Linked DNA regions of Homo sapiens. The protein of the gene in region 7 interacts with the protein of the main gene of each other region in a biochemical or structural test. Each region holds a gene or a part of one and is shown on either strand. Other genes may lie near its edges.

What was found.
Region 1: the proteins of AMFR (region 7) and UFD1 form a complex in vitro, tested with the Homo sapiens proteins (one study listed by BioGRID).
Region 2: the proteins of AMFR (region 7) and DERL1 form a complex in vitro, tested with the Homo sapiens proteins (one study listed by BioGRID).
Region 3: of the proteins of AMFR (region 7) and DHFR, one has a biochemical effect on the other in vitro, tested with the Homo sapiens proteins (one study listed by BioGRID).
Region 4: the proteins of AMFR (region 7) and USP13 form a complex in vitro, tested with the Homo sapiens proteins (one study listed by BioGRID).
Region 5: of the proteins of AMFR (region 7) and RETREG1, one has a biochemical effect on the other in vitro, tested with the Homo sapiens proteins (one study listed by BioGRID).
Region 6: the proteins of AMFR (region 7) and MGRN1 form a complex in vitro, tested with the Homo sapiens proteins (one study listed by BioGRID).

Annotation. Positions count from the first base shown.
Region 1 is NC_000022.11:19,472,125-19,476,756, reverse strand, and holds part of UFD1 (ubiquitin recognition factor in ER-associated degradation protein 1), read left to right. Parts: intron 1-1,153; exon of another isoform or gene 1,154-1,154; coding exon 1,155-1,287; intron 1,288-1,656; coding exon 1,657-1,689; intron 1,690-4,632. UniProt on the Homo sapiens protein: Essential component of the ubiquitin-dependent proteolytic pathway which degrades ubiquitin fusion proteins.
Region 2 is NC_000008.11:123,031,922-123,036,553, reverse strand, and holds part of DERL1 (derlin-1), read left to right. Parts: intron 1-4,632. UniProt on the Homo sapiens protein: Functional component of endoplasmic reticulum-associated degradation (ERAD) for misfolded lumenal proteins. Forms homotetramers which encircle a large channel traversing the endoplasmic reticulum (ER) membrane.
Region 3 is NC_000005.10:80,624,986-80,628,746, reverse strand, and holds the end of DHFR (dihydrofolate reductase), read left to right. Parts: 3' UTR 1-2,521; downstream 2,522-3,761.
Region 4 is NC_000003.12:179,658,905-179,663,536, reverse strand, and holds part of USP13 (ubiquitin carboxyl-terminal hydrolase 13), read right to left. Parts: intron 1-4,632. UniProt on the Homo sapiens protein: Deubiquitinase that mediates deubiquitination of target proteins such as BECN1, MITF, SKP2 and USP10 and is involved in various processes such as autophagy, endoplasmic reticulum-associated degradation (ERAD), cell cycle progression or DNA damage response.
Region 5 is NC_000005.10:16,477,081-16,481,712, reverse strand, and holds part of RETREG1 (reticulophagy regulator 1), read left to right. Parts: intron 1-619; coding exon 620-704; intron 705-2,725; coding exon 2,726-2,863; intron 2,864-3,614; coding exon 3,615-3,679; intron 3,680-3,924; coding exon 3,925-4,051; intron 4,052-4,632. UniProt on the Homo sapiens protein: Endoplasmic reticulum (ER)-anchored autophagy regulator which mediates ER delivery into lysosomes through sequestration into autophagosomes.
Region 6 is NC_000016.10:4,627,446-4,632,077, reverse strand, and holds part of MGRN1 (E3 ubiquitin-protein ligase MGRN1), read right to left. Parts: intron 1-4,632. UniProt on the Homo sapiens protein: E3 ubiquitin-protein ligase. Mediates monoubiquitination at multiple sites of TSG101 in the presence of UBE2D1, but not of UBE2G1, nor UBE2H. Plays a role in the regulation of endosome-to-lysosome trafficking.
Region 7 is NC_000016.10:56,360,952-56,363,748, reverse strand, and holds the end of AMFR (E3 ubiquitin-protein ligase AMFR), read left to right. Parts: intron 1-692; coding exon 693-840; 3' UTR 841-2,297; downstream 2,298-2,797. UniProt on the Homo sapiens protein: E3 ubiquitin-protein ligase that mediates the polyubiquitination of lysine and cysteine residues on target proteins, such as CD3D, CYP3A4, CFTR, INSIG1, SOAT2/ACAT2 and APOB for proteasomal degradation.

The DNA.
Region 1 (4,632 bases), on a different chromosome or scaffold from region 7:
GGGATTATAGGCGTGAGCCACCGCACCCAGCCTATAAATTAAACTTTATTGTAGATATGTATAAGAAAATTGTAGATATGTATAAGAAAAAACATAGTATGTATAGATTTCAGTATTATCTGTGGTTTCAGGCGTCCACTGGGGATGTTGGAATGTATCCCCTGTGGATATGGGGGTGGGGGGTGGGAGGAATACTGTACTTTGAGAAAACCTTCAAATTGATACATGTTTGCTAAGCCTCATCTTAGTCTACAGTTTAAGATCTAGGATCTTATCTTTTTAATGGCATCATGTTTTAGCTTTGCTTGTTGCTGTAAGAAAGCATCATAACATAGTGTAACGTGTACCTACTTTGTGCTGTGAGAGCACGCTGGAGAGGCACTAGACCTGACCCTCAGCAGAGCAAGAGAGGCTTCCTGGGGAAAGGAAAGGATGGTAATTGGAACCCAGGGGAAGGGGTGCAACCACTGGGTACCTGTTCTTCCTGCTGCCTGGAATGTCTTTCCCTCTTTTTTGCCTGGCTCCCTCTCATAGCATTCAGGTCTTTGTGCAGAGTCCCTTCCTAACCACCTATTTAAAATAGCATTCCCAGGAGCCCTGTGTCTACTTACCCTGCTGCTTGTCTTCAGAACTGCCAGACACACATGTGTGTGTGTCCGTTGCTTGGAGTGTATATCTCTCTTGCTTTGAGTGTCATTTTCACCAGGACAGGGGTGGTATCTATTTTGTTAGTGGACAGACATCACTGGAGTGGTGCTTCCCTTGTGCTCATATCAGAGCCTGGCAGACAGTAGGCACTCAATAAAGAGATGTTTCAATTAACAAATATTGTTTAGATTAATGATAATAGGAAAAGTGTTCAAGGCAGAGGAACTAGCCCAGGCAGGAGTCTGTGGGGCTGTCAGTACAAGTCTCTGAGGTATGCAAGAGGTTGGGCCTTGATCCTGAGGATGAAGATGGGAGCATAGCCCTGAAAAAGGTTCAGGACAGGCTTGGCATGGCCTGTTTTGTATTTAGTAAGATTACATTGAAGATTTCAGTACATTGTGTTCTCTGACAATGTTTAGTAGCATTAATTACTCTGACATGTTTTGGCTTTTGACATGAAGAAATGTACCTTTGTTTTAATACTTGTTTCTCTTTCCTCCTTCTAGTTCTCTTTCAACATGTTCGACCACCCTATTCCCAGGGTCTTCCAAAACCGCTTCTCCACACAGTACCGCTGCTTCTCTGTGTCCATGCTAGCAGGGCCTAATGACAGGTCAGATGTGGAGAAAGGAGGGAAGAGTATGTGCTTGTTTTTATTTGAATAGTAACTTTTCCTGCCCTAAGTCTGCAATGCTGTAGCCTTCAACAGTACTTACTTTGCATGTGGGAGTCAGAAGCTAGTGTTACTGTGAAAATGGTGCTGGGATTTATCCCTGACTTGCTCTGTTGGGGTGGGGTGCTAATTATGGTTAGGTTTATGGCTGATAACCATTCAGTTCCCAAAATAAATTACATCAAGTAAGATTCTTCATGAAAGATCACTGGGACATTCTGGCTACCCTAAAAACAGTTTAAGGCTTTTTGTTAGATATAAAGAAACTGCATCTTGCCTTTGGTCTGTCCTTTTTATTTTTATTTTTTAATATTTCTTAAATGTTCTTTCCACAGTAATTATGCCACCCTCGGCCCTGGACCAACTCAGTAAGTATCTTCTGAGTGACTTAAGGACTTAGATAATGTACATATGGACACCAAGAGTCAGCATGGGCTCCTCAGTACATCCAGACACCAGTGCCCTTTGTCAGCATCTGGTTGTGAATTGTCCGTGGAGGGCATGCGCTGGGCTGGGAGAACCTGGGTCACAGGTACCTAGGGCGAGGCCAGGGCCCCCTGAACCTCAGCTTCATCACTGCCCTGGGTGCTTCAGGTTCCTCCTCTGTGAAGGGGGTTCCCTTTCCCTTCCTGATCACCACCTCCACCCACCCCCCAACTGTTCTCAGTATTCTGTCAGGATTAAGTGAAGGTACAAGTATCAAGTGCTTTGTACCGTGCCAGGGCAGCTGATGCCATTGGCTGGGCTCACTAGATTTTTTTCCTAAAGGAAGAATTGGTCAGCTCACAAGAGGGCGCTGTGAGCAGGTTCCTCATCCCCTCACCAAACATCTTTCCTGAGCTCCAGACCCCCATTTCTTTTCTTTTATTTATTTATTTATTTATTTTTTGAGACAGAGTTTTGCTCTTAGCGCCCAGGCTGGAGTGCAGTGGCGCAATCTTGGCTCACTGCAACCTCTGCCTCCCAGGTTCAAGTGATCCTCCTGCCTCAGCCTCCCGAGTAGCTGGGATTACAGGCACCCGCCACCACGCCCGGCTAATTTTTTGTATTTTTAGTAGAGATGGGGTTCCGCCATGTTGGGCAGGCTGGTCTTGAACTCCTGACCTCAGGTGACCTGCCTGCCTCGGCCTCCCAAAGTTATGGGATTATAGGCGTGAACCACCATGCCCGGCCCAGACCCCCGTTTCTAATCTCCAGTGCACCAATGCATCCTCAGCATGTCAAAAACTGAGCTATTGTCTTCCATCCAGAAGCCACTCCTCTTGCTGGGCTCCTGCCTCTTACCAGGAGTGAGATAGGCCCACAGGGGTTCTAAGAGTGGCCACATTCTTCCTCCCTTTTCTCTGACCCCTTATCCCATGAGAGCAACCTGGAAACCCATGCCCTAGCCCCATACTACACAGGCACAGAAAATCCCTATCATGGACAACCCAATCAAGGATGCAGTCATTGCCTTCCAGACTTAAAGAGTGTTTCTGGTGTGAATTCTTCCTGTGTGAGGCAGGAGACTGGGGTTGGCCAGGAGGACAGGTTCATGCTTGGTTTTGGGGGCCTCTGGTGGCAGCAAGCAGAGAACAGGTGCTGGCTGTGGTGTGACTCACCTCGGGCTCTTTGCCCAGCCTGACTCCAGAGTAGCAACTTGACCTCTCTGAACCTCAATGTCCTCTTCTTTAATTGGGGATATCTACAGTGTCTGTGCATCAGAAGTACTGTAGTGTCTGTGACAACCTAAGCTATCCGATTCCAACCACAAGGTGGAGGTAGCCCCTGAGCCAGCACTGGCTGTGGCTATACCCAGTGGAGGCCTCAGCTCAACCAGTAGGTCAACAGAGCTATGGAGTTCACAGTTCTCACGAAGACCCTGTCATTACAGAGGAGAGAACAGGCTCCCTAAAAAGGTCTTCCTTTCAAGTCATGCTGACCCAGGAGCCAGACACCAGGGGTGACCCTTGGCACAGGTGTCCAGAAGAGACTCAGGGGCTGGGTCATTGAGGTGTAGCTCAGATCAGTGTTGTTCAAATCTTTTAAGTGATGGGAGAAACTCTTTCTGTCTAAATCTTATAGGAAGTCCTCTAATTCATAAAATGAGGTTCTCTGCTTTTTTTGGAGAAAGTGAGGGGGTACAGAGGGACTGGGAGCCCCAGGGCACTGGGAGCCTCTAAGTCACAAAATGCAGTTTGAGAGTCAGTGGACTGAGGGACATTGGAGTCTCTTTCACTTGCAACAATCTCAGACCCTTGGCTGAGCCCAGTCCAGTTTACTGTGGACCAGCTGTATGTCAGCTCCATGGCTGTGCAGCTGAGAGGTGGACCGGGACAGAGGTCCTGGCCCCTTTACTGCCAGTGTGAGAGTCACCCTTGGTGATAGGAGGGAGTGCCCACCCTTACTGTACCTCCATGCTACTCTCAGAGGTTCTCTGTAGCTTCCTGCCCAAGCTTTTAACTTGATTTGCTTTATTAGAATTTTTAGGGAGATCTCAAATGGAATCTGCGTTACTTCCTAACACTAAGTGTGATTTTTATTGGAATATTTGTCTGAACTAACAAGCTAAATTCTGCTTTGATGGTTGAATCCCTGGACTTAAGCCAGCAGCCTTGGTTTGAATCCTGGCATCACCACTTGTGTGCTGTGAGGTCTTGTGTGCTCACCACTTGTGTGCTGTTACTTAACCTGTGGGCCTTAGTTTCCCCATAGATAAAAGGGGATAATGATAGTACCTACCTGACTGTTCTGGGAAGACTGAACAAGGGCCTTACACATGGCAAACACCATCACTACCATCAGTTCCTTCTCGGTCTTCTCCCGGGGGCCCAGTGTCTCCTGGGTTTTCCTGCCTCTTTTTGCCAGCCCTTCCTTTATGTGCCTGTGCACCTCTTGGGTCAGCACGTCACCAGTCCAGCTTACTTGCCTCTGGCCTTGCTTTCAGCCCACACCTCAAGGTCCATCAGAGAGAGGGGGCGTCCTATGTCATGACCCTGCTGAGAGCTCACACTGCCCGCTGGGCCCAGGCCCTAGGTTCTACCCCGTGTGGTGCCCCTCCCCTTCCCAACCACTCGCACACCTGTCCCCAGCCTGTCTTGCCTAATTATCCACCATTTCTGAACTGCCTGGGCTCCTCTTCCCTTCCACGCCTTTGCTCAGGCTGCCACCTCTGCCTGGATTTCCTCCCAGGTCTGCCCGCCCAGTGCCCAGCCTAAAGAACTCGGCCTCTAGGAGCCTAGCCCAGTAGCTCTGCCCCCTCCTGCCAGCTCTTCCCACAGCACCTGCAGCATCTGGTTGTGGTTTTCTTTGTTGGAAGGTTTCTACCTTCA
Region 2 (4,632 bases), on a different chromosome or scaffold from region 7:
GAGTTTTTAAAAATTCAAAACATGTATACAGCCAGCATTCAGATCAAGAAACAGAATCTCTAAAAGCTTTCTCCTGCTTCCTTCTGGTCACTGTCCTCTCTAAGGGTGACTATGCTCTTGATTTTTAATACCATGTATTGTTGTTGCCAGTTTTTATGCTTTTTATAGGTGGAATTATGAAGTATGTTCTCTTTTGTGTCTACCTGCTTTTATCAACATTATGAGAGTCACCCATATTGTTGCATGTGGTTATAGGTTGCTCATTATGGGACCATACCACAATTTATTTACTCATTCAGCTATTAATGGACCTTTTGGGCAGTTTCCAGTTTGGCTATTATGAATGGTGCTGCTATGAACATTCTAATACATGTCTTGGTGAACATATGTACTTCTTGGTGAGGAGAAATAGTAATTTCTGTTGCCTATATATCTAGGAGTAGATTTGATGGCTTCTAATTGCTCTTTTTAAAGATTAAGTGCCTTTCATTTGTTTAAATGAATGGAAGGGGCCTTTTCTTGCCTACCCGTTGTGTCTCCCCACCCAGCAAAAAAGGCCACAGTTTACTAAACTAGCATTTGTCACACAGGTGCTCATCATCTTTCTTGCTTGGTGACTGATATATACTTAAGTCCGAATCAAGTGATCCTTATTATTTCAGACAAATCCTCACTTTTCATACTTTAAAAAAAAAAACACTAGATTCTGGATGGCAAATTATTTCAGTAGCAGATTGTTTAGAAGATTTTAGCTAAAGGATGGCTGCAACCTACACTCTGAAGTTGTTGGACTAATAACTGAGGAACAATGTCTTATGTCTTCTTTAAGGGTGTATATAGCAGTGAGCACATGGGCTACATGTCCTTGTTAAGTGAGGAACTCTAATTAGGGCCCAGCTTTCCTCCTGAAAAAACTGGGATCATTATGGGCCTGGCCTTGAGGTTGCTGTGGACTTAAAATGAGATACTCCCCCACGAGTCCTCTCAGTAAGTGTGAGGCAGGCAGTCCTCTGTCTGCAAGTCGTGGCTCTTTGTGCTGCAGTTGGCTGCCTCTTAGGCTTTCCAGGGTTGAAAATGGGCCTCTTCACTCCTGGCACTGAACGTAAAGCCAGTTCCTTCTCCTTACTGTTTACATATCAGGTCGAGGAAAAAATGGGATTTAGTTGGATACTTACAATGGGGATTTCCGAAATATGTTACACTGTGTCCTTCTAAAGAGATAAGCTGTCTTCTGGTGTTTTCAGATTATAATTTTAAAGTAACACAAAAATAATATTAAGTCTTTTAGATCAATGAAAGCAAGTATAACTCAAGGGTAGGCTTAATGAACAGGGAAAAGAAGTGAGATATTTTGACAGACACTGATTTCCAAAGAACAGGTGCAAACAGTGACTAAAAATAGTCTTATGTCATCAGCATTAGAGAAAATGTAGTCAGACAAAAACAAGGTTTCTTTTCCAAAACCAGGCCTTGAGTAACTTATAGGAATATGGGGGTAGTTGAAATATGAATTTATAAAAACTGGTTAGCGGGTGTTTCCGAAAAGATTGTGATAATACAATTAACACACCCACACATATTAATTCTTTTTGCATAGTATCTTTTTAATTCACTTTCTTAATTCCAACCTTTTACAAATCCTGTAAGATAAGGAAGGCAGAAGTCATAGGATAATGTCATTGGGTAGATGATGAAGCCAATTTGACGTCCATACTTTTCCAAGGGTCCAGGGCTACCTAGAGGGTTTGCTTCTGGTCTTTACTCCCAGTCCTTTTCTTAAGCACAGAGAATTAATTAGTAGGTTTACTCTGAGTCTATTTCAGGATTACACAAGTGTCTGTAGTAGTGAACACTTACACTAATTGTAATTGTACCTCATAATACTGACGCCATTTGTGAGAGGGATTGTAAAAATAGGGGCTTAGTATCACAAACTCTGGAGTCAGACTGTCTGGGATAAAATTCTAGCTTCACCACTTACTGGCTGATACTTAACCTTTTCTCATCCTGTTTCCTCATCTATGAAATCCGTCTCCTGAATCAGTGCGTGTAAATAAGCTGAGTAGCACATTAATTTATTGATTTCTTTAAAAAAATTAACTATGGAAATTGAGGCTCGGAAGTGGTGACTTATAAGCAAAAACTTAAACCCAGGTCTTCTCAAGTCATCTCCAGTTCCCTTTCCACTAAACTATCCTGTTTCTGTGATAAAGTTGTGAATGAATCAAACCAAATGTTAAACTATTTTATTTTTCTGGTTTAATACACGTTTCTTGGAAAGTCACTTTTTTGGTATGCACATTGCATTTCCCTCTACAAGGAATTAAGCTCTGAGGGTTACATTCCTGTACTTGGAGAATGGAACTGGCCAGTCTGTATGTGGCCAGTCCCCGTGACTGACGTCCTCCATTCCAGCCACACTTGAATTGTTAGCAGTACCCATTCAGTTATTGTGCTCTTGCAATTCTTGGGGCCTTTGTAACAAGTCCACATGTCCCCTCCCTTGTGCCAACCCTTTCTTCCTTTGACAGCCTTCCCCACTACTCTGAGGAATTCAGGGGCCATGTCTTTTGTGCTTGGTACATGCTAGTGTGCAATGAGATAGACACATATCTCTCACACCAAAAGCCAGCATTTTGCTGCCATTTCCAAAAGTTTAGGAAGGCCATCTGCTTCAATCACTATTTAGCATTGTTCTGGTGGGGGTGCCAGCCAGTGAATTAGACAAGAATGAAATAAGATACAAAAGTTTATTTACAGCTAGGGTTGTATGCTTGGAAAGCCCAAGAAGCTCAATTTTCTTTTTTGTTAAGACATAGTTTCGCTCTTGTTGCCCAGGCTGGAGTGCAGTGTTGTGATCTCGGCTCACTGCAACCTCTGCCTCCTGGATTCAAGCGATTCTCCTGCCTCAGCCTCCCGAGTAGCTGGGATTACAGGCATGTGCCACCACGCCCGGCTAATTTTGTGTTTTTAGTAGAGACAAGGTTTCTCCACCTTGGTCAGCCTGGTCTCGAACTCCCGACCTCAGGTGATCTGCCCACCTCGGCCTCCCAAAGTGCTGGGATTACAGGCATGAGCCACTACTCCCGGCCGAAGCTCAATTTTCAATATTGTAGGCAGTAAGATACTCAGCTTTTGTGGTTAAGTATAAAAAGGTAGAAAGAGATAGCTCTATAGACAACTCTAAAAGCTATGAAAAACTTCTTGGCTGGGAATTATATCAATATCACATGGATATAATAAAAGAATGGTTCTAATTCATTTAGAAAAATAAAATATTGAGACTAACCAAGAAAATTGTGACAATTGTTGAAGAAAAAAAGGGGGAGATATTATTTAGCTGTTTAACTTTACCAGCTATTAAAATATGTTATAAAAGGAATAGAAACTAGGCTAGGCCCAGTGGCTCATGCCTATAATTTCAGCACTTTGGGAGGCTGAGGTGGGAGCATCATTTGAGGCTGGTAGTTTGAGAGCAGTCTGGACAACATAGGAAGAGCCCGTCTCAAAAAACAAACAAACAAAATTACCAGGTGTGATGGTACATGCCTGTAGTCCTAGCCACTTGGGAGGCTGAGTGGAGAATTGCTTGAACCCAGAAATTTGAGGTTACAGTGAGCTGTGGTCAAAACACTGCGCTCCAGCCTGAGCAACAGACTGAGACCTTGTCTCAAAAAAAAAAAAAAAAAAGAAAATAGAAATTAAAATAACTTGATATTGGCATAGGAACCAATTCCAAACAGAATGGTGTTAAAATAGACCTACATGTAAAAGAGACTAGAGTATAAACGTTCAATGAAAGTAGTTTTTCAAATAATTGGAAAAAATGTGGGTTACTCTGTAAATGGGGTTGGGAAAACTGGGTGACTATTTAGAAAAACAGTTGGATCTCTTCCTCATTCCTTGGATGCACCTTGAAAGTGCTAAAATAAAACCATGAACACTTACATTCTTGGAGCGAAAAGACTTTCTAAACATGACACATCATGGATACATATGCCTACATTTAATTAAACTTTTGTATGTCAAAATATGGCAAAAACACCATGAAAGTCTAATGACATCAGAAAATGCTTGCAATGATGAGAAAGAGAAATTTCATAATGTATGAGGAAATGCAGCCAGGTGCGATGGCTCATGCCTGTAATCCCAGCACTTTGGGAGGCCAGGACAGGTGGATTGCTTGAGCTCAGGAATTTGAGACCAGCCTGGGCAACATCAGGAGACCCTGTATCTACAAAAAATATAAAAATTAGCCAGGTGTGGTGGTGCATGCTGGTAGTCCCAGCTACTTGGGAGGCTGAGGTGGGAGAATCACCTGAGTCCAGGAGGTGGAGGTTGTAGTGAGCTAGGATCATGCCACTGCACTCCAGCCTGGGCATCAGAGCAAGATCCTATCTCGGGGGGGAAAAAAAAAATGTAAATCCAGAAAAACAAATGAATAAAGGAAATGCTCAGGTTTTTAAAACGTGAAAAGGTGCTTGACTTCTCATAATGCAAATAAAAATTAGTTTTCAGATTGGTGAATATATAATACATGAAATGGTGAGAGTATGGAGAGAAGACAGGATTCATCTACTTTTTAGGAGGAAGTATAAATTGAGCAAACATTTTTGTAGGCATTTGGCAGTA
Region 3 (3,761 bases), on a different chromosome or scaffold from region 7:
GAGCAGTTTCACTAGTGGAAATACCAAAAGCTTCCTACGTGTATATCCAGAGGTTTGTAGATAAATGTTGCCACCTTGTTTGTAACAGTGAAAAATTGAAAACAACCTGGAAGTCCAGTGATGGGAAAATGAGTATGTTTCTGTCTTAGATTGGGGAACCCAAAGCAGATTGCAAGACTGAAATTTCAGTGAAAGCAGTGTATTTGCTAGGTCATACCAGAAATCATCAATTGAGGTACGGAGAAACTGAACTGAGAAGGTAAGAAAAGCAATTTAAAGTCAGCGAGCAGGTTCTCATTGATAACAAGCTCCATACTGCTGAGATACAGGGAAATGGAGGGGGGAAAGCTGGAGTATTGATCCCGCCCCCCTCCTTGGTTGTCAGCTCCCTGTCCTGTGTGTGGGCGGAACATAGTCCAGCTGCTCTATAGCAAGTCTCAGGTGTTTGCAGTAAGAAGCTGCTGGCATGCACGGGAACAGTGAATGCCAAACACTTAAAGCAATTCGATGTTTAAGTATGTAAGTTCTTTTTTTTTTAGACAGCGTTTCGCTCTTGTTGCCCAGGCTAGCATGCAATGGTGTGACCTCGGCTTACTGCAACCTCCGCCTTCCCAGATTCAAGCGATTCTCCTGCCTCAGGCTCCCAAGTAGCTAGGACCAGGTGCGCGCCACCACGCCCGGCTAATTTTTGTATTTTGTATTTTTAGTAGAGATGGGGTTTCACCATGTTGGTCAGGCTAGTCTCGAACTCGTGACCGCAAGCGATTCACCCACCTCAGCCTCCCAAAGTGCTGGGATTACCGGCTTGAGCCACCACACCCGGCACATCTTCATTCTTTTTATGTAGTAAAAAGTATAAGGCCACACATGGTTTATTTGAAGTATTTTATAATTTAAAAAAATACAGAAGCAGGAAAACCAATTATAAGTTCAAGTGAGGGATGATGGTTGCTTGAACCAAAGGGTTGCATGTAGTAAGAAATTGTGATTTAAGATATATTTTAAAGTTATAAGTAGCAGGATATTCTGATGGAGTTTGACTTTGGTTTTGGGCCCAGGGAGTTTCAGATGCCTTTGAGAAATGAATGAAGTAGAGAGAAAATAAAAGAAAAACCAGCCAGGCACAGTGGCTCACACCTGTAATCCCAGCGCTTTGGGAGGCTAAGGCAGGCAGATCACTTGAGACCAGCTTGGGCAACATGGCAAAGCCCCATCTCTACAAAAAACACAAAAATTAGCTGGGCATTGTGGCGCACACCTGTATTCCCATCTAGTCAGGAAGCTGAGATGGAAGAATTAATTGAGCCCACGAGTTCAAGGCTGCAGTGAGTCGTGATTGTGCCACTGCACTCCAGCCGGGGTGACAGAAGAGACCTTGTCTCGAAAAGGAATCTGAAAACAATGGAACCATGCCTTCATAATTCTAGAAAGTTATTTTCAACTGATAAATCTATATTCACCCAAATAATCAAGGGTGAAGGTAAAATAATACATTTTTAGACAAGCAAAGACTCAGGGGTTACCTCCATGTGCCCTTTTTAGGGAAGCTGTTGGAGAAAATACTCCAGCAAAATGAAGGAGTACACAAACCAGAGAATGACATGAATCCAGCAAATAGGATCCAACACAGGCAATATTCCAGCTATGGAGCTAGCTTTAAAAAGGAACAGTAAAAATATTAATCGGTTAGCTGGGTGGAATGGCCCATGCCTGTAGTCCCAGCTACTCAGGAGGCTCAGCAGCAGGACGACTTGAGCCCAAGAGTTCCAGACCAGCCTGGCCACCTTAGTGAGATCCCTTCTCTTAAAAATAATAACTTATTGCCAGATTTGGGGCATTTGGAAAGAAGTTCATTGAAGATAAAGCAAAAGTAAAAAAAAAAAAAAAAAAAACAAGGGGAAAGGGTTGGTTAGGCAATCATTCTAGGGCAGAAAGAAGTACAGGATAGGAAGAGCATAATACACTGTTTTTCTCAACAAGGAGCAGTATGTACACAGTCATAATGATGTGACTGCTTAGCCCCTAAATATGGTAACTACTCTGGGACAATATGGGAGGAAAAGTGAAGATTGTGATGGTGTAAGAGCTAAATCCTCATCTGTCATATCCAGAAATCACTATATAATATATAATAATGAAATGACTAAGTTATGTGAGGAAAAAAACAGAAGACATTGCTAAAAGAGTTAAAAGTCATTGCTCTGGAGAATTAGGAGGGATGGGGCAGGGGACTGTTAGGATGCATTATAAACTGAAAAGCCTTTTTAAAATTTTATGTATTAATATATGCATTCACTTGAAAAACTAAAAAAAAACAATAATTTGGAAAAACCCATGAAGGTAACTAACGGAAGGAAAAACTAAGAGAATGAAAAGTATTTGCCTCTGGAAAGAACAACTGGCAGGACTGTTGTTTTCATTGTAAGACTTTTGGAGCCATTTAATTGTACTTAACCATTTTCATCTATTTCTTTAATAAGAACAATTCCATCTTAATAAAGAGTTACACTTGTTAATAAGTGCTGGCCTCCTGTTGTTCTTTGTACACCCCACACAAAATTTCAAAGAAACTTTGATGGCAATATATCTCCATGGTCAGCTTAAAAATAGAGAAAGGAAAACATAGAATTAGCCAAGAGTCACACAAAACAAAGATCAGTTGTTTGTTAGGAAACAATCAAAATCAAGTCTCACTTTTTCCAGATTGGCTTATGGAACAGCACTGTAAGGTGATAACTTGGGGCAAACATGTAAATAATAAAACATATGTTTTAAATATTCAGGTTAGCACATTTTATGTTTCTGTGAGATTAAAATTGTGTGTGACATACCCGCTTCCTTAAAGGCAATGTTTCTGAAAATGTTGTACCTGCTATTCCTGAATCAGGGATGGGTCCCAGAATCTGCCTTTTAAACATCTCAGATAATCTGAAGCCTGCTTAAGTTTGTAAGGCACTGCTTTTGCACTCTAAGGAAGAAAAAAACAAGTTTTAATTCCCGTCTCTAGAACATCTCAGTGAAGCAAAACAGGAAAGCAAATTATAAGTTAGTATATGTAAGATTTCAGAAGGCAAAGTTGTAAAGATTAGATTTCCTTAGCCTGGGAACATGGCAAAACCACGTCTCTACAAAAAATACCAAAAAAATTAGCTGCGTATGGTGGTGTGTGCCTGTAGGCCCAGCTACTTGGGAGGCTGAGGTAGGAGGATCACTTGAGCCCAGGAGGTGGAGGCTGCAGTAAACCAAAATCGTGTCATCACTCCAGCAGCCTGGGTGACAGACCAAAACCCTGTCACAAAAAGATTTCCTTGTTGCTGATCTGTTTTAAGAACAAGACGTTCTTAAATGTGTAATGCAAATACATATAAAACTATTTAATATCAGTAACTCCAAGAGAACGAGTAAACAAACTAGATTTCCCTTAGCAAGATGCTTTTCTTACACAGGTAGTAAACTAAAAACTGTAAAGTTAATGGCCTAATTAGGCAACATGACTGTGAGGAAAAGATTGGCTGGCCAGCCGTTGAAAGGATTCAGACAAACAGTTATCTATGAAAGATTGAACCTTGTAATTAAAAATGTTCCAGCGGGGAGAAAGAAAAGAAGTGCATGATTAAATGACTAATGGGAATAGAATTAGAGACTCTATAAGGAGAATACTTTTTGTTTTTGAGAGTCTCACTCTGTCGCCCAGCCTGGAATGTAGTGATGGCAGTCTCGACTCACTGCAACCTCTGCCTCCTAGGTTCAAGCAATTCTGC
Region 4 (4,632 bases), on a different chromosome or scaffold from region 7:
GGCCCGAGCCTTAGCAGTGCAAGGGAGAGAGGAGGATATACCAGAATTTGGTGACTGATGGGATATGATGCTAAAAGAGACAGTGAGATAGCCATGTTCATGGCAGCACTATTCACAGGAGCCAAAAGGTGGAAGCAACCCAGTGTCCCTGACAGATGACTGGATAAACAAGATGCGGTATATACACACAATGGGATATTATCCTGCCTTACAAAGGAAGAAAATTGACACAACAACATGGATTAACCTTGAGGACATTATGCCAAGTGAAATGAATCAGTCAAAAAGGACAAATATTGCATGATTCCACTTGTATAAAGTACCTAGAGTGGCCAAATCTTAGAGACAAAAAGTTGAATGGTGGTTGTCAGAGGCTGAGAAAAGGGGAGAACAGGGAGTCATTGTTTAAAGGGTACAGAGTTTCTGTTTTGCAAGATGAAAAGAATTCTGAAGACAGACAGTGGTGATAACTGCAAAACAGTGTGAATGTACTCCAATGCCACTGAACTGTACATTTTAAAATGGTTAAGATGGTAAAGTTTATGTTATATGTATTTTATCACAACTTAAAAAATAAAAAGAGAGAGAGGGAGGTAGAATGGATGATACCATACACCTCTCAATCTGGGGCACTAAAATGGATGGCCGCTCCTTTAACTGAGCTCCAGTCCATAGGGAGAGGAATGCAGGGGAGGAAAAAGAGAATTCAGAGTTGCACAGATGTCCAGATCCAAAATGAGCAGAGAACATGAACTTTTCCAAAAAGTCTTTCTGACAGGATCAGCATCATCTCTCACATTCCAAAGCTCTAAAAATGGTACAACTTTAAAGGTAATGAACTACTGTCCAAAAGGGACAGCAAGTGACTTCTTGATTATGATTTTAGAAAAGCAGGATTTTAGGGTACACATGGCAAATGACACAAAGACATCCATTTCACTCCTTTCTGAAACCCCAATCAAAGGACAGCAAAGGGATTTTTTCAAGACATAAGCTATAGCACTAAAGTCTGGAAAGCTGGACGGCAGGTAAATGAATGCTAAAAGACTAAGATGGCAACAGAGCTGAATCCTAGGCCAGCAGCAGGGAAAGCCAAGATCCAACCTGATCTTCACCCCAGAATGCCCAAAAGACTCCAGAACTGGCAATTCAAGATAACTCTGGAAGATGGGGTGAAGTAGGAGCTAAAATAAAGAGAAAGGTTTTCTATGTAGCCGTCAGAGCCCCAAACCTCACCTCCACTCCAAGAGGCCCCTCCCTCTCCTGGCAAAGAACTAGAGAGTGATTCTCTAAAGCAGACAAAAACAAAGGTTTCAGCGCTGGGGAAGAATGAGCTTAGTTAAGAATAGAGGCACCATCACGAACATGGGGACTAAGAGAATGTATGTGTATCAGTCCAGATTTGGTCAGAAAATAGATGCTATTCAGGTATTACAGGCAGGAAGAGATTTGATACAGGAAATTAAAAGCTTAAAAAATCATGGAAAGGGCATGAGAGCCACAGTCAGAGAAATCACTGCCTATGTTCAGGAACTCAGGATGTACAAGCGTCACAAGAAACTGCACAGATGACGTCAGAATCCCCACCACTGAGGTAACTGTGTCCCAGAAGGACACTCAGATGCTGCTAGGAAAACCTCACATCGACCAGGTGCCACAGTTGCAATAGCAAAGTGGCTTCTCCTTCTCTTTTGCCTTCTAAATCTCTTACTGGAAAAATCAGTATCAGAATCTTGCCACCAAGGGACTCTGGGAAATGCAATGTCCAGGAGCCAGCCCCTGCAATGATGGGAGAAGCTTAGCAAAGCAGGGACACAGCTGAGAACCTACAGGCAATATCCAGCTGGTATCGAATACCCAGATGCTGAGACCACCTTCACCCTCCACTCCCACTCAGTTCCCTAAATACTGGTAGACAGGCCTGTATTTTCCAGGCAAGAGATTAGAATAGTCTCCTACCTGGTAGCCAAAGGAAGAAAAAAAAATCACACTAACATTTAAGCTTCCCCAAAGAAACAGCCCAGCCAGGTCACCCTACAATGAAACTCACAGTTCAGAGAATAAAAAAAAAAAAATCCTATCTATGAAATAGTAAATTCCCAGCTCAAGTAGCTCTAATTTTTTCAAAAAGTGTCAATCAAACTCTCTAAATTTTAATTTGCTTCAAAAAGAATGTGCATGCAACATATGACATCTATGGTTGAGCTAAAATTAAGATAATAATTTAATGTGAACCCATAGGCTACATTTCAGGTGAGGTAAGTGACTGGAATAAGTGGTTATATCTTCTTGCCTAAACTCTAGAACTTTGGTTTCCAAAGTAAGGCCTGGTAACCCTCTGACACCCCAGAGTCTTTAAGTAATTTGGGAGGTCAAAACTATTTTCATAACATGAAGTTACTTGCCTTTCTCTCTCTCATTCTCTCATAGCACACAGTGGCATTTTCCCAAGGCTACGTGACATGCAATGACATCATTTCAAAAGCCAATAGAATGTAATTGTTCAAATTGTTTTAAATTTTTCTCAGTTTTAACTTCTAATATGGTAAATAGCAACAGAAATCACACAAAAGCTTTTTGCGGTTCTCAAAAATAGTTAAAGAGTATAAAGAGGTCAAAAAGCTTGAGAATCACTGCTCGAGAACAACTTTTCAGCTAGTTGCTTTTGGAAGGAAGCTTTTGACATGTGAAACTAATAAGATTTACTTTAAGTTTATATCTTCAAAGTGGAAAAAAGTCTGTCTGCTCTGAAATTTTGCTTTACTACCTTGTATCAGTTTATCCATCAGGAGGAAGAGTTTTCCACAGAGATCCTAAATTAACTTTTTTTTCTCCCTACAAGTAAACATTATGATGGGAAGTCTCATTGACTGCAAGGCAACGTGCATAGTACAATGGTAAAATGCAGAGAATCTACAGGGACTCAAACAAATACTTGTACACCAACAACTGAAGCAGCTTTATTCACAACAGTCAAAAGGTAGAAACAACCCGATGTCCATTAACAGGTGAATGGACAAATAAAATGTAATACATGTACATATATATGATGGAATATTATTCAGCCTTAAGAAGGAAGGAAATTCTGATGCATGCTACAACACTGAACCTTGATAACATTATGCTAAATGAAATAAGCCAGACACGAAAGGACAAATACTGTGTGATTCCACTTATATAAAGTGCCTAGAATAAGCAAATTCATAGAGACAGAAAGTTGAATGGACATTACAAGGGGCTAGGAGAAGGGAGAAGTGGGGGTTTATTGTCAAATGGATACAGAGTTTCAGTTTGGAAGGATGAAAAACTGGAGATCGACAGTAGTGATATTCACACAACAATGCATAGTGATAGTTACACAACAATGCGAATGTAATTTAATGCCACTGAATTGTACAATTAAAACGAGTTAAAATGTTTCCATGCGAATGTAATTTAATGCCACTGAATTGTACAATTAAATCGAGTTAAAATGTTTTGTTTGTTTGTTTTTTGAGACAGAGTCTCGCTCTGTCGCCCAGGCTGGAGTGGAATAGCGGGATCTTGGCTCACTGCAACCTCTGCCTCCCAGGTTCAAGCGATTCTCCCTGCCTCAGCCTCCTGAGTAGCTGGGACTACAGGCGCCCGCTACCCAGCCCGGCTAATTTTTGTATTTTTAGTAGAGACGGGGTTTCACCATGTTGGCCAGGCTGGTCTCGAACTCCTGACCTCATAAGGTGATCCACCCACCTCAGCCTCCCAAAGTGCTGGGATTACAGGTGTGAGCCACCGCGCCCAGCCAAAATGGTTTTTTAAAAACAGATTCTAGAGTCAGACAATTCAGATTCACATCCCAGCTCTCCTACTTACTCTCTGGGTGATCTTTGTACTTGAGTTTCCTGATCTGCAAAATGGTAATAGTATATAACATAGGGTTGTTGTGATGATTAAATGAGTTCATGTAGGTATAATAATATATGCAATAATTAGAAGGCTTGGAATGATGCATGGCACCTAGTAAGTGCCCTATCACTCGGTCTCAAACTTTGGCATGTCTCAGAATCATGCAAAGAGCTTATTAACACACAGACTGCTACACCCCCACCCCCAGATCTTCTGAAACAGAATTAGCAGTTCCCAAGACATGCTAGTGCTGCTGGTTCAGGGAGCACGCTTTGAAAACTGCTCTATATACATGTGAGATGTCATTATTATTACTGGCAATGCCTGAGAGAATACCAGGCACACCACTAAATACTTGTGGAAGAAAGGACAGAAAGACAGAGGATTCACTGAGCCCCTAACATGAAGTGTTCCCACAAGTAGATGGAGATCTCAAAGTCTTTCCTGGTGGATATCTAAACCAGCCACTCCCACCTGATGGCCCCTGTCCATCAGAGTTTCCAAAGACTCCCAGGAAGACAAAGAACCAACAGTGACATCTCAATATCACCGAGCCATCTCAGAGCTTTCAAAAATGGGAAAAAAGCTCCTTCTTAAAAAACAGTCCCAATGCGAGAAGGGAAGAAGAGGTGGGAGTAAGGGGCAACCATTTATGCTGAGTATCATATCCCCTCCGGCCACCTTTTTGGTTCAGCCACTGTATGCAGCTGATTGTCACAGCAGGTGTGGCCCAACAGTCTTAGCCTCAGC
Region 5 (4,632 bases), on a different chromosome or scaffold from region 7:
TCAATGGCAGTTTTTTTCTAGGTGACTTAGAAGTGGGGTCAGTTTGAGCAGTATATATGGTTAGGAAAGAGGATAGTGATGGCCATAAATTTATCCTGTCAGCTTAGCAGCTATAAATTACATTAGATTTGTGTAAATTACGTTAGATTTGTGTAGATACCTCTAATTTCTGTAACTTGTTTTGCTGTGTTTTTATGAATTTCAGTGGGCTTATAGTGGTAGTTTGAACTTTCAGATGTAGTTATCAGGCCGCATTAATTTCCTTAAATGAGCGAAGTAAAAGAAGTTTCTGGGAACATAATAGTTTTCTGTTCTCTTGCACCTGGCAGTAATATAGCCACAGGCATGAGTAATGGGAGTTGTCACTCTCTGTGCCAGAAATTAGCTCCTGTGTCCTCAAAATAATTATTACCAAGTGTTGAAATGGACTAAGACTGGTTGAATGCAGCAGTCATTAGTCAGCCCTTAGTGCAAAATAATGCTCTTTGGAAAAAATCTGTAATAACCAGATAGGTCACTTATACCGGTCACTATAGATTTACAATTGTGTGTGTATCCTGTGCTCCGAAATATCTTGGTGTTATGCTTAACTATCCCATGTTATTTCTATTATTTCCAGTTTTGTCTCCTGGTCTGTAGTGTGTGCACATTTTTTACGATCTTGGGAAGTTACATTCCTGGGGTTATACTCAGCTATCTACTGTGTAAGTATAGTAGAACATATGGCTAAGTGTTGTGATGCATATGGTATCACCTTACGGTCAACAGACCTGTAGTTTGAAGAGGGGGGATGAGTTCTTAACTATAATACAAGTTGATTATTCTTTAATCTCCTGCTGTACAAAGTTTCTCCATTTTCCTAGAGACATGTCTCTATTTTAAAATTGGAAGAATAGCTGCAAAAGGCAGAATTATAAGTGAATAATTTTATGTTAAATTTTGTCAGTAAAAGTATACATAAAGCTGTATGCCCCACCTCCCAAAAACACACCAACACCTTTGCCTTCGTGCGTGTTCTTTGGCTCAAAAAAATAATTAAAACCACAATGAAATACCATTGCATCCCTACCAGAATGGCTAAAATTAAAAATACTGACCACATCAAGTATTAGGAGGGATGCAGAGCAAGTGGAATTCTCACATACTGTTGCGGGGTAGGTAGAATGTTAAAATCACTTTGGATAACAGTTTGGCAGTTTCTTAAAAACTACTACATGACAAAGCTATCCCACAACTAGGTACTTACCCAAAAGAAATGAAAGTACAAAGACATAAATGTTCATAACAGATTTATATGTAGTAGCCAAAAGCAGAATATAATCCATACATCCATCAATTGGAGGAATGGGTAAGCAAACTGTGGTATATCCATATAATGGATTACTACTTAGCACTAAAAATGGATACATACAACACTAAAGATAAATCTCAAAATAATTAGACTGAGTAGACAAAACCAGATGAAAAAGTGTGATTCCATTTATATATTATTCCAGAAAATTCAAACAATCTTTAGTGACAAAGCAGGTCAGTGGTTGCCTGGGGATGAGGTGGGTGGGGGCAGGGAGAAGAGGCAGGAGACTGGAAGGAAGGTTGAATAAAACCATGAGAAAACTTCATGTCTACTGGTAGACATGTTCACTATCTTGATTATGGTGATGGCTTCTTAGTTGTATGCATATGTCAAAATTTATCAAATTGTACACTTTAAATACATGTATTTTATTATACATCAATGACCACCCAAAAATGTTATTAAAAAGTATGGATTTTCTTCACCTGAAAACTATGATCTGGCACTGCTACCTTTCGATGGGGCAGGCACTCTCCACTTAACATACCCCCATATTTTCCAATTTTTCTTACAATGGACTTTAAAATTTACATACAATTTCTTGGCCTCTAGAGACATTTGAGTTTGTAGCTCTTATTTTAAAATATAATACGGGACACTTCCTAAAACGAACAAAGAAATAAATATTGGGAATACAATACTTAGAGTGTGGCAATCTTTGCTTCTTTTTGTATTCTTAATGCATAATGCAAATGGCAAATGGTCAGAGCTCAAATCCATTCTCCCCAAAAGAAGTCATATATAACATCAGCCTCATGATGACATTGTTTAGGAGGTAAAGGAGAAGAGGACTGGGGAATGAAAGAATAATTTGGGCAAGGCATTATTCAGATGGTTTGCATTGATTTCATTTATGCTTCACAACAACCCCAAGAAATAATGTTACTATCCTAATATTATTGATGAGAGGCTAATAACTTTCCCATGGTGAAATGGCATTGAATAAACACAGTTAAACCAGGACTGTTGTCTGGAAGGCATGTAATTTTTCTATAAATTTTGAGAATAAAAGGATTGAAAGGAGGGAGTTGATCTAACTGCACCTGGAAACAATGACTGTGAGCATTGTGTAAGTGTGGGTATGCATGTGTGTGTTTGTGGGTGGTGGTAGAAAATGTTTACCTTACAGAAAAAGAATAGAAATTATAAACTTGTGTAAGTGTGGGATGCATGTGTGTGTTTGTGGGTGGTGGCAGAAAATGTTTACCTTACAGAAAAAGAATAGAAATTATAAACTTATTTCACAATGGCATTTCCCTTAAAAAAACTTAAGTTTTTCAGTAAAGAAATGTAGTATTTTGTGAAATACTGAAATGTACGTAGCCTTTTGAAAGGAAAGGCATTTTACCTCTGCTCTCTTTCTTCTTTCAGTACTGTGTGCATTTTTGTGTCCATTGTTTAAATGTAATGATATTGGACAAAAAATTTACAGCAAAATTAAGTCAGTTCTGCTGAAACTGGATTTTGGAATTGGAGAATATATTAATCAGAAGAAACGTGAGAGATCTGGTAGGTAAAGTTTATATTTTAGATTCTATGCATGAAATGAGACATTAGCGAGCTATTTTTAGGAAATTCTTTAATACATTTGAGGATACTTTTAGCTTTTTACTAAATATTATTATAGAAGCTAATCTCCCTCAAAGTTATATATATCCTTTTCCTATTTGGGCTTTCCTTCTTTTCTCAAATATACAATTAAATAAATTGACTTTTTAATCCACAGTGTCAGGGGAGAAAGAAAAGGCTTCAACACTCTTTATTGTGCTACTTATGATTTACTTAGTTTTATTTTGGGTTGGACTATCACAAAGAAAAAGAAAATACAGGAAAAGCCAATATAATCATCTCTTACTTTTTAACTTGGCTTATGACCTTATAGGTTCTCAAACTAGAATGTATCGGAGTCACGTGGAGGGCTTATTAAAGGACAGATTGCTAGGCCCCAGCCCAGAGTTTCTGATTCAGTAGGTCTAGGGTAGGGCCTGAGAATCTGCATTTCTAAAAAGTTCCCAGGGAGGATGCTTTTGCTGTTTCAGGGACAATATTAAGAGAGCCACTAATGTGGATCATTTCCTTTGCAAATATGTGAAGCTTGTTATGTGCAAACATTTAATTATATTTGTAGTTAAGAATATGAGAAATATATATTTGTATTTGGAGAATATGAGAAATGTGGGGTAAGAATACATAATGAAATAAATGCACTATGTCTGAGTTGGCTAGGAAACTGAAAGCTTCCAAATTTTTTCCTCAACAGAAGCAGACAAAGAAAAAAGTCACAAAGATGACAGTGAATTAGACTTTTCAGCTCTTTGTCCTAAGGTATTTTTTGTTTAGTTTTCAATTTGTTCCTGTGTGGTTTGACTGTAAATGCATGTATGCATACAAAGCTGAATGATCTTCCTAATAAACTCCTCATATTTCTGTAAGATGACTGAATGATTTCAAAATAAAAATATCCATTTGGTTTTTATTACTCTGTCATTTTGGGGGTTCATATGGATTTTTCAAAATATTCCCTTCAGCAGTTTAAAATGTGCCGCTGGTATTTATTTATATTAACACAGATTAGCCTCACGGTTGCTGCCAAAGAGTTATCTGTGTCTGACACAGACGTCTCAGAGGTATCCTGGACTGATAATGGGACCTTCAACCTTTCAGAAGGATACACTCCACAGACAGACACTTCTGATGGTATGCTAATATTTCTGGAGACATTTATTTTTATGAGTGCATACAAAACTATTGAACTTCTGTCAAATACTGAATGGGTAAATAACATGTTACCACCATATCTACACAGTAGAATATTACTTGGCTATAAAAATGAAGTCCTGATACTTGCTACAACATGGATGAACCTTGAAAACATGCTAAGAAGCCAGACACAAAATGCCACATACTGTGTAATTCCATTTATATGAAATGCCTAGAATAAGCAGGTCCATATAAAGGGAAATTAAGTTAGTGGCTGCTATGGACTGATGGAGGGAATAGTGAGTGACTGTTAATTGGTATGCATTTCTTTTTGGAGTGATGAAAGTGTCCTAGAATTAGATAGTGATGCTGCTTGTACAGCTTTATGAATATACTAAAAAACACTGAATTGTATACCTTAGAAGGGTGTTTTTTTGGTGCATGAATTATCAAAAGCTGTTTTTTAAAAAGTATGAGGAAAATAAATCAGTCAATGTCCAAATTTGCCTTTATTTTGAAAACAAAATAATCAAAAATTAGAAAAATTACCTCCTGAAATGTCTTTGAAATGTCCCAAG
Region 6 (4,632 bases), about 52 Mb from region 7:
GCGCCATTGCCCTCCAGCCTGGGTGACAAGAGCAAGACTCCATCTCAAAAAAAAAAAAAAAAAAAAAAAAGGAAATTTTTTATCACTACTAGATTGGGAAGGCAATATATCAGTAATAGATTGGCAAATATCACTTGCCTTAAATAGGTAAAGTTATCTGAAAAAAAAAAACAACTGAGAAGCTAAATATCAAAATTAATGTAGAGATATACCATGTTCATGGATTCCCAGAGTCAGCACTGTAAAGACAGCAATTCTCACCACATAGATTTATATATCCAATGTAATACTTATCAAAATTGCAGGCTGCTTTTGTAGAAATAATTGACAGGCTAATTATAAAATGTATATGGAAATGCAAAGAACTTAGCATAACCAAAACAATTTTGAAAGAGAACAAAGTTGGAGAACTTATGCTACCTGATTTCACAACTTACTATCAAACTACTGTAAACAAGCCAGTGTGCTGCTGGTCTAAGAACAGACCAGGATTTCTCAGTCTAAGCACTATGGATATTCTGGGCCGATTTATTCTTAATTGTGGGGGACTGTCCTGTGGCCTCTACCCAACAGATGCCCCCAGCTGTGACAATCACAAATGTCTCCAGACATGGCCAAATGTCCCTTGAGAGGGCAAAAATGCCCCAGTTGAGAACTTCTGGGACACACATAAATCAATGGAACAGAATGGAGAGTCCCAAAATAAACCCTCACATTCATGGTTAACTGGTGGGGTTCTTGTCGCTGTTGTTTTGATTTTTAAGAGACATGGTCTTGCTTTGTTATCCAGCCACAATGCCTGGCTTAGGTCAACTAATTTTTGACAAAGGTGCAAAGGCAATTTGATGGGAAGATGATAGTCTCTACAACAAATGATACTAAAATAATTGAATTCCATCCACAAAAAAGGGGGGTTTAGATCTTTATCTCAAGCCATAAGTGAAACAAATTAATTTGGTCAGCTACAGCGGCTCACACCTGTAATCCCAGCACTCTGGAAGGCCAAGGTGGGCAGATTGCTTGAGTCCAGGACTTTGAGGCCAGCCTGGACAACACGGTGAAACCCTGTCTCTACAAAAAAAATACAAAAACTTTGCTGGGCATAGTGGTACACATACATAGCTGGGAAAACCCAGCTACTTGGGAGGCTGAGGTGGGAGAATCACCTGAGCCAGGAAGTCAAGGCTAGAGTGACATCATGCCGCTATACTCTAGCCTGAATGACAGAGTAAGACCCTATCTCAAAATTAAAAAAAAAAAAAAAAAAAAGAATTAACTCTAAATGGATCAAAGACCTAAATGTAAGAGCTAAAACTATAAAACTTCTAGAAAAGGCCGGGCACAGCGGCTCACGCCTGTAATCCCAGCAATCTGGGAGGCCAAGGCAGGCAGATCACAAGGTCAGTTTGAGATCAGCCTGGCCAATATGGTGAAAACCCCGTCTCTACTAAAAAATCCAAAAATTAGCCGGGCGTGGTGGCTCGCACCTGTAATCTCAGCTACTCAGTAGGCTGAGGTAGAAGAATCGCTGGAACCCGGGCAGAGGCTGCAGTGAGCTAAGATCATGCCACTACACTCCAGCCTGGGTGACAGAGGGAGACTCCATCTCAAAAAAAACCAACAACAACAACAACAACAAAATGCTAGAAAAAAATAGGAGAAAATCTTTGTGACCTTGACCTAGGCAAAGATTTCTTTTCTTTCTATTTGTTTTTTTTTTTTTGAGACGGCGTCTCACTCTGTCGCTCAGGCTGGAGTGCAGTGGCATAATCTCGGCTCACTGCAACCTCTGCCGCGCTCCGGGTTCCAGCGATTCTTCTGCCTCGGCCTCCCAATTAGCTGGGACTACAGGCACATGCTGCCACACCCAACTAATTTTTTGTATTTTAGGAGACATGGAGTTTCACCATGTTGCCCAGGCTGGTCTCAAACTCCTGAGCTCAGGCAATCCACCCATCTCAGTCTCCCAAAGTGCTAGGATTACAGGCGCGAGCCACTGCACCTGCGCTTTTTTTTTTTTTTTTTTTTTGAGATGGTGTCTCACTGTTTGCCCAGGCTGCAGTGCAGTGGCATGATCTTGGCTCACTGCAACCCAACTCCACCTCCCAGGTTCAAGCAATTCTCCTGACTCAGCCTCCTGAGTAGCTGGGATTACGGGCGTGCGCCATTGCGTCCAGCTCATTTTTGTATTTTTAGTAGAGACGAGGTTTCACCTTGTTGGCCAGGCTGGTCTCGAACTCCTGACCTCAGGTGATCCGCCCACCTCAGCCTCCCAAAATGCTGAGATGACAGGCATGAACCACCACACCCAGCCGCCTGTATGATTTTTTTTTTTTTTTTGAGACGGTGTCTCGCTCTTTCACCAGGCTGGAGTGCAGTGGCGCGATCTAGGCTCACTGCAACCCCCGCCTCCCGGGTTCAAACAATTCTCCTGCCTCAGCCTCCTGAGCAGCTGGGACTACAGGTGTGTGCCACCACGCCCAGCTAATTTTTGTATTTTTAGTAGAGATGGGGTTTCACCATGTTGGCCAGGATGGTCTCAATCTCTTTACCTCATGATCCGCCCACCTTGGCCTCCCAAAGTGCTGGGATTACAGGCGTGAGCCACCATGCCTGGGCCCAAGATTTCTTAAACATAACTCCAAAAGCAGTATCCACTTAAAAAGCAGTAAATGAGACTTCGTCAAAATTCAAAACTTTTGCTCTTCAAAAGAAACACCATTAAGAAAATTAAAAGACAAGCCAGACTGGGAGAAAATATTTGCAAATCACATGGCTGACAGGAGAATCCTATCCAGAACACATAAAGAACTCTTTGTTACAACTCCGTAAGATAAACAATCCAGTTTTTGAAAATTGGACAAAAGACTCAAATAGACACTTTTCACACACACACACACACACACACACACACACACACACACACATACGAACAGAAAGCAGGCCAGGTGCAGTGGCTCACCCCTGTAATCCCAGCACTTTGGAGGCTGAGGTGGGCAGATCACCTGAGGTCGGGAGTTCGAAACCAGCCTTCCCAACATAGTGAAACCCCGTGTCTACTAAAAATACAAAAATTAGCCTGGCATAGTGGCCAGTGCCTATAATCCCAGCTACTTGGGAGGCTGAGGCAGGAGAATCACTTGAAACCAGGAGGCAGAGGTTGCAGTAAGCCAAGATTGCACCACTGCACTCCAGGGCAACAGAGCGAGACTGTCTCAAAAAAAAACAGAAAAGGCTGGGCATAGTGGCTCACACCTGTAATCCTAGCACTTTGGGAGGCCAAGGCAGGCAGATCACCTGAGGTCAGGAGCTCGAGACCAGACTGGCCAATATGGTGAAACCTCATCTGTACCAAAAATTTAAAAATTAGCCGGGCGTGGTGGTGCGCACCTGTAATCCAAGCTACTCAGGAGGCTGAAACAGGAGAATTGCTTGAACCCAGGAGGCGGACGTTGCACTGAGCCGAGATCATGCCACTGCATTGCAACCTGGGCGACAGAGCAACACTCCATCTCAAAGAAAAAAGAAAGCAGATCGCTGATGGGCTGAGGGTGGGGGTTGGGGTAGGGACTCTGCAAACAGATGGAAGGAAACTTTTACAAGGGAAATGTCTGCAATTGTGGTGATGACTGCACAATTCTTTTTTTTGTTGTTGTTGCTTCAATGTCCCCTCCTTTTTTTTTTTTTTTTTTGGAGACAGAGTCACACTCTATCGCCCAGCTGGAGTGCAATGGCGTGATCTCGGCTCACTGCAAGCTTCACCTCCCGGGTTCATGCCATTCTCCTGCCTCAGCCTCCCGAGTGGCTGGGACTACAAGCGCCTGCCACCACACCTGGCTAATTTTTTGTATTTTTAGTAGACATGGGGTTTCACCGTGTTAGCCAGGATGGTCTCGATCTCCTGACCTCGTGATCCGCCTGCCTCGGCCTCCCAAAGTGCTGGGATTACAGGCGTGAGCCACCGCACCCACCCACAATTCTTTTTTTTTTTTTTTTTTGAGACGGAGTCTCACTCTGACACCTAGGCTGGAGTGCAGTGGCGCAGTCTCGGCTCACTGCAACCTCCGCCTCCTGGGTTCACACCATTCTCCTGCCTCAGCTTCCTGAGTAGCTGGGACTACAGGTGCCCGCCACCACACCCAGCTAATTTTTTGTATTTTTGGTAGAGATGGGGTTTCACGGTGTTAGCCAGGATGGTCTTGATCTCCTGACCTTGTGATCCACCTGCCTCAGCCTCCCAAAGTGCTGGGATTACAGGCGTGAACCACCGCGCCCAGCCTTTTTTTTTGAGACGGAGTCTCGCTCTGTCACCCAGGCTGGAGTGCAGTGGCGCAATCTCGGCTCACTGCAGCCTCCACCTCTCAGCTTCAAGCAATTCAGCCTGCCTCAGCCTCCCGCGTAGCTGGGACTATAGACGCCTGCCATCACGCCCGGCTAAATTTTTTTGTATTTTTAGTAGAGACGGGGTTTCCCCGTGTTAGCCAGGATGGTCTCCATCTCCTGACCTTGTGATCCGCCCGCCTTGGCCTCCCAAAGTGATGGGATTATAGGCGTGAGCCACCGCGCCTGGCCAGACGACTGCACAATTCTATAATTTAACTAAAAATCATCAAATCATGTTTACAATGGATG
Region 7 (2,797 bases):
CACTGGGCCCCACTGGTCTACCTCTGATGCTGGTACTGTCAGTCATCTCCCATGGACCCCTTTGGCCACGCTTGCCGAGAGAGCACTTGTGTGCTAACCTGATCTAAGCCCTTTATATGAATTACTTTAACAGCTCTAAGAGGGAGCACTGTTAACCCATTCAGCTGACATACAGCTGAAGAAATGGAGGCTGGAGAGGTTAGCACTGGCCTGGCCCTGGCGTCTGTCTCCCAGGTCCTCCCTGTTGACCACTCTGCCTTTCAGCTGAGCATTGTACACACACTCAGCGCATCTGTGCGTCACACACCCATGGTTGGTGGCAGCTACAGCAGGTGTGTCCTGTGGATAGAGGGGGTTTTGTTCCAGCTCTTAAGGACAGGGCCAGCACTGTGTTCCTCAAGTGGGTTTGGGCCCTGGCAGACCCTGTGATTGTGGGAGTTCTGTGCTGTGTCTGTGGGTGGAGGGGATGGGCAGGAAGAGACAGCAGGGAACAGCACTGAAGGGTTCCTCCCTGGTGCAGAGAGAATTTGCGCCCATCTGTTGGGGGCTGGATGTCTTGGTCATTGGGTGGTGCTGAGTGACAGCTTCATGAAGGTGCCTGGACATGGGGAGATGTGAAATCAACCTTCTGGCTGTGTTCCACAGCTCCCCATCTCTCCTATGAGAGAGAAAAAGTCTTCTGTTTTTTCTAGACGTTTCTTGAACAAAAGTTCTGAAGATGATGCGGCCTCAGAGAGCTTCCTCCCCTCGGAAGGTGCGTCCTCTGACCCCGTGACCCTGCGTCGAAGGATGCTGGCTGCCGCCGCGGAACGGAGGCTTCAGAAGCAGCAGACCTCCTAGCGCTCCCTTGCCTTCCTCAGCTGCCTCCTGCGCCCTGTGCCCGACTGACTGGAGGAGGCCTGTCCCAATTCTGCCCGCTCCATGGAAAAGCGGGCTTGACTGCATTGCCGCTGTATAAAGCATGTGGTCTTATAGTGTTTGGACAGCTGATAAATTTAATCCTTCTTTGTAATACTTTCTATGTGACATTTCTCTTCCCCTTAGAAACACTGCAAATTTTAACTGTAGGTATGATCTCTTCTGGTGTTGACTGGACTGCTTGGGGTGGGGGACGATCAGGAGGAAGTGAGCAGTCGCCTGCCTGCAGCAGGCAGCTTCTACTCCTGCCTCATGCGTACGTCCCACAAATGCAGGTGTCCTGAGCACCACACCCAGTGGGAAGAGTGTGGGGGAGGCGCACAGTGTGAGCCCGCCCCCACGTCGTGGGGTAACATCTGTTATCAAACTGCTGTCGTTGTTGTGGAAGCATGTAGACTGTGCCAGAGGCCAGACCCACGGGCTCATGCACCCCTGAGCCAGCAGGGCATCTTGGAAAAGGAACTCTTGGTTCGATACCTGGAGCAGAGGAGGGGAAAGTCCAGGGCTATAGGGTGTGATGAAGTCACCCCTTTCTGTCCCACTACATCTGGGACTGACTTTCCGAGCCTCCAGTCCAAAGCCGGCTTGATTTCCGTGAACTCTGGTGCTCCTGCATCTCATGAGTGTGCCCCATGGGTCCCCTCCCCTCTCAGCATTTCCTTGTCCCGTCTGGACCTGGGGAGTGGTTAGGCAGCAAGCTTTGGTTTATGGTTTTCATTCATTGGTGAAGTAAATTAGGCAGTGCTAAAGCCTGTGGGTTTGGTCCTTGAACAAGATGTGGGCCTTGCAAGATGGGAGAGTAAACCTTGAAGGGCTTTATTAAAGAAATAAAAAAGAACTTTTGTATCTTTTATCCTGGGAGCACTGCGTTTTCCTAGCTGTGTTATTCCTGGTTTAATTCAGCAGAGAAGGTAAGGTGTGAACCTACCTGCCTTGGAGAGGGCCCAGGTCCCAAATCTCTTCAAATTCTTCACATGTTTAACTTTAAGGATTTGAACCATGAAGTCATAGGTTACAGACCTCAGTTTTATGCCCCATTGGATTACTTTTTTTTTTTTTTTTTTTTTTTTTTTTTTTACTCTTTGAAAGCTTTGTTTTGTGGTAGTCCTTTTGGGAAGAATCCAGTATTATCCACAATTATTGGCAAAGTTTAAATGTATTTTACATAACGGAAAGTTTTTAGAATGTTGAAAAGTAATTGAAAAAGGTGATAGGTAAATTTTTAGGCAAAGATAATTTATTTCAATAAATCTTTCAAAAGCCTTACCTTGAAATGCTGTTAGTAAATTTCTGTGATTTTTTTTTTTAATTTGTTTTGCTGAGAGCATAGCTATTTGTTTTTATTGTAAAACAATAATAATAATAAAAAGCAAACTCTATTGGTGTGTTGTGTGTGGCTGGAAGCTAAGGCATGTTTTTGTGTGGCTGGAAGCTAAGGCATCTTTTTCCAGAGGTGCCAACGTTAAACCCCATTTTGATTTGGATTTTGTGTATACTATTTTGGTTGGAGGGTTTTTTCCCATGTTTTTGAATTGGGAACTTTTGTTTTTCCTAGTAGTGTATTTGGGGAAGGCAGAACTACATTTTTCTTCCCCTTGTATTTATATCTTTTTTTTTTTCAGGTAAGTGTGTAGCGAAAGATTATTTTACTGTCCTCGAATTACATTATACTTCACACGTTGCACCCATTGTAGGTGCCACTAATTCCACATGTTCACAGGTTTCTGATGTGTGAAAAGAGAAAATTACTTGGATCAATTTTAGAGGGTCTTGACACATTACAAAACAGCCATATCACAGTGTTTAGAGCAGGAGCTTATTAAGTAGCTTAAAATGATGCAAGAAGTGAAGTTCTCAGTCCGCCCTTCCATTTTACACC